Homo sapiens: one gene and its partner. The protein of the gene in region 2 purifies or fractionates together with the protein of the main gene of each other region. This does not show direct contact. Each region holds a gene or a part of one and is shown on either strand. Other genes may lie near its edges.

Region 1 (7,952 bases), on a different chromosome or scaffold from region 2:
CTGTGAACACCGGGAAGAGTCTGTGACCGGCGAGCACGCCGCACATCTGCCTTGTCTTGACGGTGGCATCACCCACACTTAGTCATGCACACACCTCTTAGGCGTGAGCAGCTGATGGGTTACTGATGTCAGCAACCAGCACCCAGTCATCTCCAGCCCCCAGAGCCCTGGAGCCCCTGCATTGTTGTCCCCATGCTTCTGACCTCCTCACCCCCCACGAGTCTCCTCTGCTCTTGAACCTCCCCAGTCGGAACCTGGCCAGGTGTCCTTTGCATGCCTGGCCTCCTTCACTCTTGGTAACGTCTGCGGATTCATTCCTGTCTACGCTGCAGTGTTCAGTGGCAACTGCATGAATTCACTGAAAATATACTGTAACGTTTGGGTTTGGCTGTGGCATCTCTTCCACTTTTAACATACCAACTTCACAGCTCACATTATTTTAATCCCTTTAAAAGATAATTGATTTAAAGCAAAAATCATAACAATGTGTTGTGGGGTTTATGACACACGAGAAGGTGTGATGGTGATGGTGTAGGGTCCAGGTGAGGGTGGGGGCACCCCGCTGTGGGGATCTTACAGTGTGCCTGACCGGCTGGCACAGGAGAAGCCGGGACAGGAGAAGCCGGAGGTAGGTCACTCTCCACCCTGGGGCAGCCACTGACAGCAGAGTCGCTGCGGAGGGGCCAGGCGGGGAACACACACGGAATCCTAAGGAAAACCTGAGGCTGGAAGAGAGGACAGAGGAACAGGGCTGTGTGGAGCGGCCAGGGAAGAATCAGCACACACCGGGCCCGGCCAGAGCGCTCGTCACCTCAAAACAAGGTCATCAAAGCCAGAATCACCCCAGCAAAACAGCGCAAGCTGGACCGCTGCCCTCACTCAGCTTCTACAGTTTCTCTGCTCGTGTTCTTTGTCCCTTCCAGGATTCCACGCTGCTTTTAGCTGTCACTTCTCCTGTCTTCTGTTGCCTTCCATGAGCTTTTTGCCTTTGAGTGCACTGACCAGTCACTTTGTATGGTGTCTCTCAGTTTGGGTGTGCCCAGGATGTTCTCACGATCGGAATGCGGAGATGCATTTTTGGCAGGAATATCGCAGAAGTGACGTCCTTCTCAGGTTGTTGTATCAAAGGTACGTGATGCCAATCTACCTTGCCACTGATGGCCCGAGCTTTGTCACATAGATAAGGTGGTTTCTGCACTGAAAAGCTGTTATTACTTTTTTAGGTTAATAAATATGTCAAAGCAGATACTTTGATCCTATGGAAATCTCCAATGAAGCTAATTTAAGTATAAGACACACTAGGTAAAAAGTAACAAGGTAAAAGAAGATATCCCATGCTAAACTAATCAAAGGAAAGCAGGAGTCAATTTCAAGTCAGAGTCTAGGGATAAAGAGGGTCATTTCATGATGACACAGGGGTCAACCAGTCAGGAGCATGCACGATGTGAGCACAGAGTCTCAAAACACATGAAGCAAAAGCTGATAGAGCTGCAAGGAAAAATTACAGACAAATCTGCAATTACAGTCAGAGGTTTCAACACCGCTATCAAGAATTTGTTTGTTTGAGACAGGGTCTTGCTCTGCCACCCAGGCTCAAATGCAATGGCACAATCACGGCTCACTGCAGCCTTGACTTCCTGGGCTCAAGAAATCCTCCTGCCTCAGCCTCCCAAGTAGCTAGGATTGCAGGCATGCGCTGCCATGGATGGGTGAGTTTTTGATTTTTTGTAGAGATGGTGTCTCACTTTGTTGCCCAGGCTGGTCTCTCAATAATTAGCAGAGCAAGTAGACAGAAAGTGGATGATAATATGGGCTACTCAAATAACACAGTCATTGCCGTTTATAGGACACCTCGTGGAGCAACAGTACACAAATTCAAGTGCGCATGCAACAACCGCCAACCATAATCGGGGCCATGAAAGAGTCTCAATAAATTTAAAAGGATCCGAAACATAGAATATGTCCTCTGACAACAATGGCTTTAAAGTAATGATCAACAGCAGAAAGAGCTCTGGAAAATGCACAGATATGTGGAAGTGAAATAGCATAGCTCTAAACTCATGGGTCAAAAAGGAAATCAAAGGGAAAATTATAAATTATTTTCAACTTAATGAAAACAAAAATACAACATATCAAAATTTCTGGGATGCAGTTAAAGGTGGACTTAGAGGGAAATTTATAGTACTGAATGCTTGTACAGATCAGTGACCCCAGCTTCCACCTTAAGAGACCTAAAAAAGAAGAGAAAGTCAAACCCAATGTAAGCAAAAGAGGCTGGGTGCAGTGGTTCATGCCTGTAATCCCAGCACTTTGGGAGGCCGAGGTGGGTGGATAACCTGAGGTCAGGAGTTCGAGACAAGCCTGGTCAACATGGTGAAACCCCATCTCTACTAAAAATATACAAAAATTAGCTGGGCATGGTGGCACATGCCTGTAATCCCAGCTACTCAGGAGGCTGAGGCAGGAGAATCACTTGAACCCGGAAGATGGAGTTTGCAGTGAGCCGAGATTGCCCCCACTGAACTCCAGCTTGGGCAACAAGGCAAGACTCTGTCTCAAAAACAAAAACAAAAACAAAAACAAACAAACAAAAAAACAAGCAAAAGAAAGAATAAAGAGTGGAAGTCAATGAAAAAAAAGTGCATCAACGAAACCAAAAAGCTATTTCTTTGAGAAGATCAATACAATTGATAAACTGCTATCTGATTGTTCAGTTAAAAAAAAAGCCACAATTGCCAGTATCAGAAATGAGAAAGATGACATCACCTCATACTTCACAGATGTTGAAAGGATAAAGGAATATTATGAACAACTTTATGCTAATAAATTCAACAACTTATATGCGATGGGCAATTTCTTGAGCGATACAAACTACATACATTCAGTCAAGAATAAAATAAACTCAGCAGTTGTATATCCATTAAATAATTCAACCACATATAAAAATGATAATACATCATGACCACGTGGGCTTTATCCCAAGAACACAAGATTGATTTAACACTTTAAAATCAATCATTATACTCTATCATATTAATAGATCATCACGCAAAAAGATTCTCAATAGATGCAGAAAAAACAAAATCCAACTTTCATTCCTGATTAAAAAGACTCTCAGCAAACAAGAGAAAGGATAGTCTTTTCAACAGTCTGGAAAAAACTGATTATCCACATACACAAAAAATAAACATTGAATCATATCTCATACTATAAACCCAAATAAACTTAAAATAGGTAATAGACCCAAATGCAAACCTTTAAAACTCTAAAACCCTTGTGACTTTGGGTGAGGCAAAGATTTCTTATATATGACACCAAAAGCAGGATCCATAAAAGAAAAACATAAATTGGATTTCCTCAAAATTAAAAAATTCTGCTCTTTGAAAAACTGTTAAGAGAATGAACACACAATCCAAAGGCTTGGAGAAAGCATTTACAGATCACATATCTGATAAAGGACTTGTATCCAGAATATGCAACAAACTCCCAAACTCAATAATAAGAAAATAAACAACCCAATTAAAAGTGAGTAAAAGATTTGAACTCAACGCTTACTACAGGAGATGGAGAATAAACAGATGAAATGATGCTCAACATCATTGGCCAACAGGGAAACGCAAATTAAAACCACAGTTCCATCTATCACCACACACCTATTAGAGTATTTGAAATTAAAAAGACAAACCATACCAAGTGCTGGGGAGGATGTGGAATGTAAAACCATACAATCGCTTTGGCAGTTTCTTAAAAAGTTTCACATATGGCTACCGTGGCATCCAGCCACTCCACTCCTAGACATCTATTCAAGAGAAAGAAAAGCATTCATCCAAAGACTTGTGCACAATGTTCGGATCAGCTTTATCTGTAAGAGCCAACACCAGAAACAACCCAAATGCCCACCAGCAGGTGAATGGACACAAACTGTGGTACATTCATACACTGGAGTACCATGCAGCTGTAAAAGAAATACGCATTGACAAACCAAATGACGCAGGCAAATCTCAAAAATAATTGTGCTGAGTGAAAGAAGCTACACAAAAAGTACATATTATATGATTCCATTTGTGCAAATCATAGGAAATGCAAAGTAATCAGTAGTGACAGAATGCAGATCAGTGCTTGCCTGGGGATGAGGGAGGGCAGGGAGAGATGACCAAGAGGGAACCCGGGGTGTTCACTATGCTGATTGTGGTGATGGTTTCACAGGAGTATCCGAGTGTTAAAACGTACCAAATTGAAATATGTGGCTTACCGTCTGTCAATTACACCACAATAAGGCTACTTTTTGAAAACCATGAGGATGGCTCAGGTCCGGCTCAAATGCCCCCACCCTGCGTTCCTTCCTTGGGATGTCAGACGCTGGAGCTGGAGCAGAAGGGGACCTAGATGGGCGGAGATCTAGCCCTACTCACCCACTGGCCACGGGGTAGGCGAGGGACGCTCAGCAGGGGCTTCCCGCAGACCCAGGGTCTTCAAGCCCCAGAAGTCCTGATGCCAGAGGGAAGAGGGGATTTGCCCAGAGTGAGGGGCAGGGGCTGGACCCACAGCCCCTCCCGGCGCGCAGACCCCGCCCCCACCCATAACCACGCCCTCAGCCCCCACCACCTCGTCCTCAGCCCCACAACCACGCCCCCAGCATGCCACAATTACTCCCACAACCCGCCCACAGCCCCTGCGACCTGGGTCTTAGTACCAGCTCCATCTAAAGCCGCACCACCGGCCCCTCCCATGCCCCTCCCATGCCCCTCCCCCATCTCTTCCAGGCCCCGCCCTGCCGCAGAACCCGCCCTCAAGCCCCGCCCCCGCCTAACCACAAATCCCGTTCCGGTCTCCTTACATGCCCCGCCCCTTCCCCGCCCCCGCGGGGAATCGACACAGCCTGTCTCCGCCTTTCGCCCCGCCCCCTCCAGGCCCCGCCCCACCCCGCCCCTCGCCCGCGCAGGCCGGAGTCGCGGCCTCCCCAGCTAGTGGTCGCGGGCGCGGTCGCAGGGGCAGCGGGGTGGCCGCCGCGCCAGGCGTGGAGCTGGGTCTGGCGGGCTCCGAGAGGCCCGGGAGCGGCGCGCAGAGCAGCCTCCGGCCGCCGCCGCGCAGGTAAAGCCCCCGCCCAGCCCTGGGAGCGTGGATTCCCACCCACCCCATGACCATCCCCCCGCCGCGAGTGCTGGGGTCTCGGGGGTCCCAGGTTCCGGGGGTCCTAGGGCCGGAGGGTCTAAAGGCTGGAGGTCCTGGGGGTCCGAGCCTCTCCCGGCCGGCTCCGCGCGCGGCCCCGCCGTCCACGCCCAGCGCGGGCCGCGCGCACAGGGCTTGGCTTCTCTGTTTTCTCGGTTTCCTTCTTCAGGCAGTTGAAAGAAAAGGCGCGGTTCTGTGCCCGGTGCGAGCCGCGGCTCCTTTAGGGCTGGCAGGGAAGGGCTTGCTGGGTTATGACAGTTTTTAGGGGTTGTCGGAGTCAGCCAGGCGTTGGCTGCTGGAGTAGCCCCTGGCGCGCGAGCGCCCGCTGGTGCCCGGCCACGTGCCCAGCTTGACCCGCGCTCCAGGTTCGGGAGAAGCTGCAGCCGTCACCGTCCTCCTGGCGTCCACCCTGAGGAGGGAGGGGCTGGGTGGTCCAAGCCGCCGCCACTCCGCCGCCCGGCCTTTGGTCCCCAGCGGTGCTGTAGGTGGCCAGGGGTGGCCGCAGTGACCACCCACTGGGCCATGCGGAGCCCCCTGGCAGTGCCAGCTCCCTGCACTTGTGGGACGCTCCTCCCGGGCGCATTGGGAGTCTCCAGAAGTAAGTTACAGGCAGAGCTGTTTAAGGAGGCGTGCTCCCCACCCCAGACCCTTCAGTGGGCCCTCAACACCCTCCCCACCAGTGGACGCGTTTCCCAGGTGACCGCAGCCGGCAGTGCTGACCACCCTCCCTCCCTCTCCGCTCCCTCCTGCGTCTTCCCTTTCAGAGCTGCCAGAGTGGACTGCACTGCTTCTCCCAGCGGGGCAGGATGGCGGTTTCATGTCTGGTTGGATAAGGCCTTGCCTGCGGAAACCAGCTCCATCCCCAGGCCCTAGCAGAGGCTCGCGTGTCCCCGTCCCCAGGTCAGGTCAGGATGGGCACCGTGCGCCCACCTCGCCCCTCGCTCCTGCTGGTCTCCACCCGGGAGTCTTGTCTCTTCCTCCTCTTCTGCCTGCACCTGGGCGCCGCCTGCCCACAGCCCTGCCGGTGCCCTGACCACGCAGGGGCTGTGGCTGTCTTCTGCAGCTTGCGGGGCCTTCAGGAGGTCCCCGAGGACATCCCGGCCAACACCGTGCTCCTGAAGCTCGATGCCAACAAGATCTCCCACCTCCCGGACGGGGCCTTCCAGCACCTGCACCGGCTCAGGGAGCTGGATCTGTCTCACAACGCCATCGAGGCCATCGGCTCCGCCACCTTCGCGGGCCTGGCCGGGGGCCTGCGGCTGCTGGACCTGTCTTACAACCGCATCCAGAGGATCCCCAAGGACGCCCTGGGCAAACTCAGCGCCAAGATACGCCTGTCCCACAACCCCCTGCACTGCGAGTGCGCCCTGCAGGAGGCCCTGTGGGAGCTGAAGCTGGACCCCGACTCTGTGGACGAGATCGCCTGCCACACCTCAGTGCAGGAGGAGTTTGTGGGGAAGCCTCTGGTTCAGGCTCTGGATGCGGGTGCCAGCCTCTGCAGCGTCCCCCACAGGACCACAGACGTGGCCATGCTGGTCACCATGTTCGGCTGGTTCGCCATGGTGATCGCCTACGTCGTGTACTATGTGCGCCACAACCAGGAGGATGCCCGGAGGCACCTGGAGTACCTGAAGTCTCTGCCCAGCGCCCCCGCCTCCAAGGACCCCATCGGCCCGGGGCCCTAGCGCCTGTTCCGGCAGACCCCCGCCGGTGGCTGCTGTCACTTTTGTAGTAGGTGGTGACTGATGCTGCTTTTGCTCTTCCCTGAGGCAGGTGTCACAGCCATGTGTGCTCCCCACTGTTGCACTCAGGCACAGCAGCACCTCCAGGCTGGGTGGTTTTGCCACACATCCGTGTGACGGATGAGGAACCTGAAGCTTAGAGGAACGGAATGACTGCCCGTGACGATACCATCAGGAAATTATCCCAGTGGAACTTCAACCCGGGCTGTCCATCGTGACATTCCGCCTCCTTCCACCATGCCAGCCTCTCCCACACGGGGCCCTGCAGGCTGTGGATATGCACTCAGAGGACTAAGGGGGTGCTCTGCAAGCGAGAGGGTTCACCAGAGGGAGCTTGGGTGCAGGTTCACCCGCTGAAGGCGCTGATAAGTCCTGTGCTGAGGAGCTGACTTGCCCTTGTTTACTTACAAAGTGCATTGTAGGTAAACATGAGCCTTGTTCCAGTGTTCGAAGTACATTGGAACGTAAGCCCTGTTTCCAGAGCAAAGTAACAGAGACCAGGTTTTTCTAGAGAGCTAAGTGGGATGTGTAGCTCAAACAAACTGTCCTACCCTTTTTTATTCTCAAATGTTTGTTTTGAGTAACCGTAGTGCCAAAATTTCAGTTCAGTAATGGGGTGAACAATATGGAGAGAGACCTGGGAAAAGTCCAGGGTAGCTTGCCCAGGGGAAGACAGCAGCCACATACCTGGGGGCCCGCCTGCTTCCTGCCCCTCTGGGTGTGCCTGATGCGGGAGGCCCTGCCCCAGGGCGATCTCAGCTCACTGCAACCTTTGCCTCCCAGGCTCAATCACTTCTGCTGCCTCAGCCTCCCTAGTAGCTGGAATTACAGGCATGAGCCACCACGCCTGGCTAATTTTTGTATTTTTAGTAGAGACCGGGTTTCACCATGTTGGCCAGGCTGGTCTCGAACTGTTGGCCTCAAGTGATCCGCCCGCCTCAGCCTCCCAAAGTGCTGGGATTACAGGCGTCAGCCACCGCGCCCGGCCCTGTGCCTTGCTTTTTCTACTCACTAAGATATAAAACAGCTCTTTTTCCAAGG
Region 2 (7,019 bases):
ATTATAGTCACCATGCTGTGCATTAGATCTCCAGAAGTTATTCATCCCCCATAACTGAACCATTTTACCCTTTGATGAATGACTGTTTACACAGGAAGAAGAGGAAGAATTAATTAAAATATTAGCCCTATTTAATTTTTATGCTACATTAAATAATGACAGTGGAAGTTTTCTCTAAGTAAACATGATAGCTACATTAACAGTAAACTAATTCATTATAATTTTGACACATAAAATGAATATAAAGGTAACATTTGTGAGTGGATTTTTTTAATCACAAAGTAAAGCTTGGTAGAAATACTTTAAGATGCTGTATCGAAATATCTGCTTTTAGTTTGACATTTTAAATCATTTAATTGTTGGCATTTCGTGTAACATACAAAAAATGTTGATTGAAAAAATCTTTTTTAAAAAATGATGCTGAGTAGACTTTATTCACTGTAGTCCTTGAGTGAAGCCACTGGTTGTTGGCTTTTGGACTGCTTTTAGCCTGTTTTTCTAGTTGTACTTCTTTGAGGAGGATGATGATCTTTACCTTACTCTTGGCTTTGCATGCTCAAAGTGATTAGGTTTTTTTAATGAGGCAGGAGAATGGAAATTTGAGGAAAATGGTAGAGAGAACCCTCTCTCATTTACCAAGATGACTTTCTAAGTTTATTTAGTGATGAGCTACTTGGAGATACAAGTCAAATGATGAAGTTCATAGAAATCTTTTGAATCTTGCCACCAGAAAGAGATGACAATAAATCCAACTACTTTTCCCATGCCTTACATTTTTATTTTCTTATATGCACAGTATCTTTTGTATTATAGATGCTTAATAAATCTTTTTCAAATAAATGTATGCTGGAAAATGTTGTAATTGAGGTAAATGGACATTTTTAGCTGGCTATATTGCAGAAGACTTTATTGGGTAGGTGATCTTTTAGACGGTTTTAAAAAATAATGAAGATCTTAACTGGCACACAATCAAGTATCTGTTATATGCCTTCATCTTCCACATTTTATTGTATTTTTTTCACTCCCTTGTGAAGGAAACTAATTTCAACAATGCTGTATGTGTCATGCATTAACCCATTCATAATTAGCAAGAGGTATCTGATTCAGTTTATATTATGGTACTAATTATCTAGCTCTTCAGAATATTTTACATAAAAAAATAACCTCAGGTGAATAAACTTCTGTTTCTGCTCCAGAAACCTTTTGACATTTTTTAATAATCTGTAATCACGTTGACTTAAAATGACATGACAGAAATGCCTGAATGTTGACGAGTTGATGGGAGCAACAAACATCTGCCTGTTAAATTTGGGATCACCACCTACAGCACTACACATATCATTGATCCAAGTGTACCTTGATTGATTGCTTGAAAAGAAAAATCTGGACTTATTTGGATTTATAAGCAAAGTCAAAAACATTTTTCAAAATGTTAAGTTCTAAAAGTAGTAATAATGATGGTGTAGCCCCTTACTAATCAGTGTGCTCTGGGGACCAGCAGCCTCTAAATCATCTGGGAGCTTTTCGGAAATGCAGAAACTTCACCCTAGACCTAGTGAATTAGAATCTGCATTTGAATAAATCTCCAGGTGATGCTGAAATGGGAAAAGTTGCCTTCTCCCTCTCACACGGCGTGTGATGGGGCTGTGGCTTGCTTCTTCAGTGCCCCTCTGCTCAAATCTCTAGGGCAGTATATGGACGGACGGGCAGGTTGTGGGGCTCCGACCCCACAGCAGTGTTTAGGGCCCTAGTGGGAGCGTGCTACCGTGTGCTCTTTTAATTTTGCCATCTATAGGCAGCTTGTGTTAACCAGCTCAATTAGACCCTCTACCTTGTCACTACCTTGTCACAAGGACAGAGGACTTTCTGTATCCGGGGTTCTTGGCTTGGTGTACCGGAAGAGTCACATCACACTTGGGCTTGGAGAATGAGTGCAAGGTTTTATTGAGTGGAGGTAGCTCTCAGCAGATGGGGGAAGCCAGAAAGGAGATGGAGTGGGAAGGTTTTCCCCTGGAGTCCAGCACCTCAGCGGCCTGGGCTGTCTCCTCTGACTGCCCCAGCCAAATTCCGCCTCCTCCCACTGGTCAATGGCTTGCTGGCTTGCCGGTGCCTGCTGGTGCATCCCTCTCCATGTCTAGCCGTCCGTGCCTTCCTCCGCTGACTTGCTCCTCTCCACACCCAGCTGTCTGTTTCATCCAGCTGTCTGTGTCTTCTCGGGCAGATCTGCTCTTCTGGACGTCCAGCAGCTTGTGTGTCTGCCTTCTAGAGTCTGGGGGTGGTGGAGCGGGGGTGGTTATAGGCACAGGATGGCAGGCCAGGGCGGTCTTGGGAAATCCAACATTTGGGCAGGAAATGCCTGTCCTCACCCAGGGTCTGTAGGGGTGGAGCCCTAGCCAGGGACCACGCCCTCTTCTACCCAGCACTTCCCTTCCCTTCTTCCCTGTCATTTAAAGGGACCACGCTCTTACCTTCCCAGCACTTCCATATCAGTGACTGTGCACATTACAGTTTGAGAAATGCTGGTAGTCCATTCCCTTTCCTGATCTCCAAAACATAGGGAAATTTTAGAGGCCAGGATGCATTTAGTAGATTCTGAATCTAAAGGAAACCTAAATCATTCCTTGGAAGTAGACATTGTTTATAGCATCCTCAAATGGAATTAAAAGCATATATGACTAGATTTAGAACAGAAAAATCTGTTTTACATATTTCAAAACCCTTTGGACCCTTGTCTGTTTATGTTCCTATGACTTCTTGAGTTATACATTTTTATTAACAAATGATAAAATTATATTCACTAAATGAACTCATTTGTACCTGTTTTACCAGTTTCAGAATGTTATTTTATATTTCTTAGGTTTTTCTTAGACTTGTAGAAATCATGCTGCTTTGTTCCCTGCAGGAGTTAAAATAAAAATATTAGTAATTATGCATATTTAATTTTCAGAATGCCAACTGATTACTCACAGCAGTTATAAAAGGGAAATGATTTTAGATATTCATAAAACATTTCCTTAGTAAGGGGCTTTCAAGTCTGAAGTTGTGTTATTATGGATATTTCTTTTTAAAATAATCAGGATAAAAAATGCATTTATTAAGATCCCTCTTCTTTTCTCTTTTTCAGATGTAAGACAAAAGTCTACCCTGATGAACTTCCAAACACAAGTGTAGTCATTGTGTTTCATAATGAAGCTTGGAGCACTCTCCTTAGAACTGTTTACAGTGTGATAAATCGTTCCCCACACTATCTACTCTCAGAGGTCATCTTGGTAGATGATGCCAGTGAAAGAGGTACAAACTGGTTTTTTGTTTTTGTTTTTGTTTTTTTGTTTTGTTTTGTTTTGTTTTTTTGTATTAGAAAGCTTTATTATGGCCAAAAAGATAACTAGGCAATGATCTATATTTGCATTATAATTTTACTAGCCCTGCCACAGCCTATCAGATTCTCATCAAGAACCTCATTAATGCCAACTCTAGAAGCAAATAACTAATTCTTTCACTTTCTCTCATGATTCTATATGGTTCTTACCTAAAATTTCAGCCAAAATGACTTTCAAAAATATATCTTTTTTCCAACTCAATTGATTATATTATTGAGCATTCTCATATGATTTTATGGATACTTGACATTAATTAACTAATGAAATCTCTATTATTTTATATCTAAGGCAGTAAATACTGATAGGAATTGGCCACCATTTCTGTGTGTTGAATTTCCATCTTGGTAGTATCTCTGCTATTTCTTAAAACAGTTTCAAAAATTTTTCTTATAAATTCTTATACATGTTACAGATTTTCTCAAGTTGACATTAGAGAATTACGTGAAAAATTTAGAAGTGCCAGTAAAAATTATTAGGATGGAAGAACGCTCTGGGTTAATACGTGCCCGTCTTCGAGGAGCAGCTGCTTCAAAAGGGCAGGTCATAACTTTTCTTGATGCACACTGTGAATGCACGTTAGGATGGCTGGAGCCTTTGCTGGCAAGAATAAAGGAAGACAGGTAAGAATTTATGTGTTCTGTCTGCCTGGGTTATGACTGAACCTCTTAGGACAGTTCCAGATGTCCATCAGAATTTCTCTTCCAAGTTGCTATTTTTAGAAGGTTTATTTTATAGCTTTTCTTAAAAGCACGTTTTCCCACTTGCTTGATAAATAAGACTGCTGTATTCATGCTGGACATAGATAGTTGATTAAGAAATAGTGAAATAATTCAAATAATAAAAACGTGTTAAATTACTTTTTAGGTGAAGGAAATAAATATAATCTAAAATAGTATAATTGTGTTATAAAGCACATTTTCAAAGCACCTTTTTGTGTTCTGACAACCACCCTGTGAGGTAGGTACTGTAGATATTCTTATCTATAACTTATAATGAGGAGGAACAAAGAAGCCACATCTAACTTGCTCCTGTCATTGGAAGTGCTGGGAACAACAATTCAGCTCTTTCCAGTTCTCTGCCAGTGTTCTGTAAACTACACGAGCACCCTTAGTCAGTCTAGTTCAAATCCACCTGGAATGTCTTAAAAATGCACACACACACATGCACACACACAGCACTGAAAAAATTATAATTAAAAAAAGAAACATAAGAGCACAGCTATAAGAATATGTTTAATTATTTCAACAATGTCACCTTATACATACACATTTTGAAATCTGGAAAATTGAATAAATAACACTTATAGAAATTAAGAATCCTTATACATACCTGCAATTCCTTCTGTTGTTGATGAAGTACAAGCATTTTTTAGCAAATATTTATAAACACTGGTGATAAGAGAGTATAATTTCTAAATACCTAGATAACTAACATTGAATGCCAACTGATACAATAACAAAACATTACATAACACCATACTTGCATAGTCATTTCGTCTATAGTAGAAAATTCCTTCTAGAATTGACATTTTTAATTAGACACTCAAGATAGGAGCTACTTAGTCTGAGCTAGTCCAGCCACATCACTTAAACAGCAGGATTTGGTACTTGCCAGGAAGATGGATGGAAGCTGTCAGTAAAATGAAGCACAGCAGTTGAAGAAAGCAGTAGGAACCTTTTAGTCCATAGAGTGTTGTACATGGCTAATAACATTTTTCCACTCTGTGTATTGTACAGTACCCACAGGACAATCAGACTGGCAAAGTAAAATGAACTTAAAAATGAATTTCCTGGCAAATTTTGGTACATTATGTTGTTTTTTTTTTCCACATGTGTTTCATATTCAACTGAATGAGCTTTTAATGTTTCAATACGGTCATACATAGGCTATTTATTTTTTTGATCTAACAACATAATTGCACTGTATTTGCATATGATGAACCCTATTGTCTTGACCTGATTATAAAGTTTAAAACTACCCTAAATAGACAGTCTGTTCAAGATTTTTAGACCTAATTTCTTCTCCTCACAAGTTAAATCATTAAATCTAATAAAGGAAGTGAGAAAAATGTTGATTTTTCTGGGGTCCAGAGTCACCAAGAAGGTTTTCCAAGGCTAGAGGAGTCTTGTTGATCGCAGATAAGTTGAGGCTCTGGTCAGTTGTGTGGAATATAAGACTTCAATTGAAAATGAGTATTGGTGAAACTGGTGTTACAAAACAAGTATGAATAATGGACATTTATGTGCTTTTCATATCTAGGGATGATTCAGAAGCTTATTTGTGTATTTACCTTCTACCAAATATGAAAAACCAACTCTGGTCTTCAGAATTAGCTACAACCAATACAATTTGAGTAGGCCTGAACATTTACTTGTGGAAATCACAGAAGGTTGGTCCCATAATAAAATAAATGAACAGGCATTAGATCAAGAATTAGAGAAGGCACAACATGGATTAAAAGTGTACCTAATGATTTTCCCAAATGAAATTTTCTACCATAGAAAGCTACCATTAAGAACACCAACCTTTCTCTTACTTTAAGAAAAATGGGATAGGCCAGGTGCGGTGGCTCACACCTATAATCCCAGCATTTGGGAGGCCAAGGCAGGTGGATCACCTGAGGTCAGGAGTTCGAGACCAACCTAGCCAACATGGTGAAACTCTGTCTCTGCTAAAAATACAAAAATTAGCCAGGTATGATGGCAGGCACGTTGGGAGGCTGAGGCAGGAGAATTGCTTGAACCTGGGAGGCAGAGTTTGCACTGATCTGAGATCTCCCCACTGCACTCCAGCCTGGGTGACAGGGCAAGGCTCTGTCAAAATAAATAAATAAATAAATAAATAAATAAATAAATAAATAAAACACCAGAGATTAAAGTTGCTTATCTTTCCCTATCTTAAGCTATCATCTAGATTATACATGTAAACTCTTAATTTGAGGACATTTTACTCAGAAATGGTCATGACCCTATCATCTTTCATCGGAAACATTTACTTATACTGACGGATTATGATTTTTGTTGTTGCTGTTTGTTGATTTCTGTTTGTTTTTCCTAGTAGGTGTTTTCTCCATGAAGATGTTCTCAGAACTCTCTAAACTAACGTACCCTACTTGAAATGCAAACTACCAGATCTAATTTGCCATCATCCCTTCTTACCTCCCTGAATGCTATTTCTTTTCAATGGATTATAGCTAAAATGATGCATAATCTCAAAGCAGCTCTACTAATCATGCTGTGGGTGGAGGTTTTATAAAAAATAGACCCTGCTCATCTTGCTAAGTTAGTACTTAGAATGCATTTGGAAATAAACTTGTTTAGATTTCAAAAGATAGCATAAAGTAAACTGTAAGGAATATGTAGTCAAAGGAAATAATTCCATGGACTAATAGGATAAAATGAAGCTAAAGGCATATTAAAGTAACAAAATAATTAAATTTCCTCATATCAGCTATAATCAGTTTGAAGAAGATAATGTAACATTTTAATTATCATGTGTCTATAAATTGGTTTTAATTTCTCTGCAGGAAAACGGTTGTCTGCCCTATCATTGATGTGATTAGTGATGATACTTTTGAATATATGGCTGGGTCAGACATGACTTATGGGGGTTTTAACTGGAAACTGAATTTCCGCTGGT

What was found. Proteins that work in one complex are often made in the same cells at the same time.
Region 1: the proteins of GALNT13 (region 2) and LRRC3 purify together in Homo sapiens (affinity purification with mass spectrometry; 2 studies listed by BioGRID and IntAct, with this or other methods). This does not show direct contact.

What each region holds. Positions count from the first base shown.
Region 1 is NC_000021.9:44,450,565-44,458,516, forward strand, and holds the start of LRRC3 (leucine-rich repeat-containing protein 3 precursor), read left to right. Parts: upstream 1-4,945; 5' UTR 4,946-5,091; intron 5,092-5,933; 5' UTR 5,934-6,080; coding exon 6,081-6,854; 3' UTR 6,855-7,952.
Region 2 is NC_000002.12:154,238,906-154,245,924, forward strand, and holds part of GALNT13 (polypeptide N-acetylgalactosaminyltransferase 13), read left to right. Parts: intron 1-3,124; coding exon 3,125-3,291; intron 3,292-3,792; coding exon 3,793-4,000; intron 4,001-6,906; coding exon 6,907-7,019. UniProt on the Homo sapiens protein: Catalyzes the initial reaction in O-linked oligosaccharide biosynthesis, the transfer of an N-acetyl-D-galactosamine (GalNAc) residue from UDP-GalNAc to a serine or threonine residue on the protein receptor.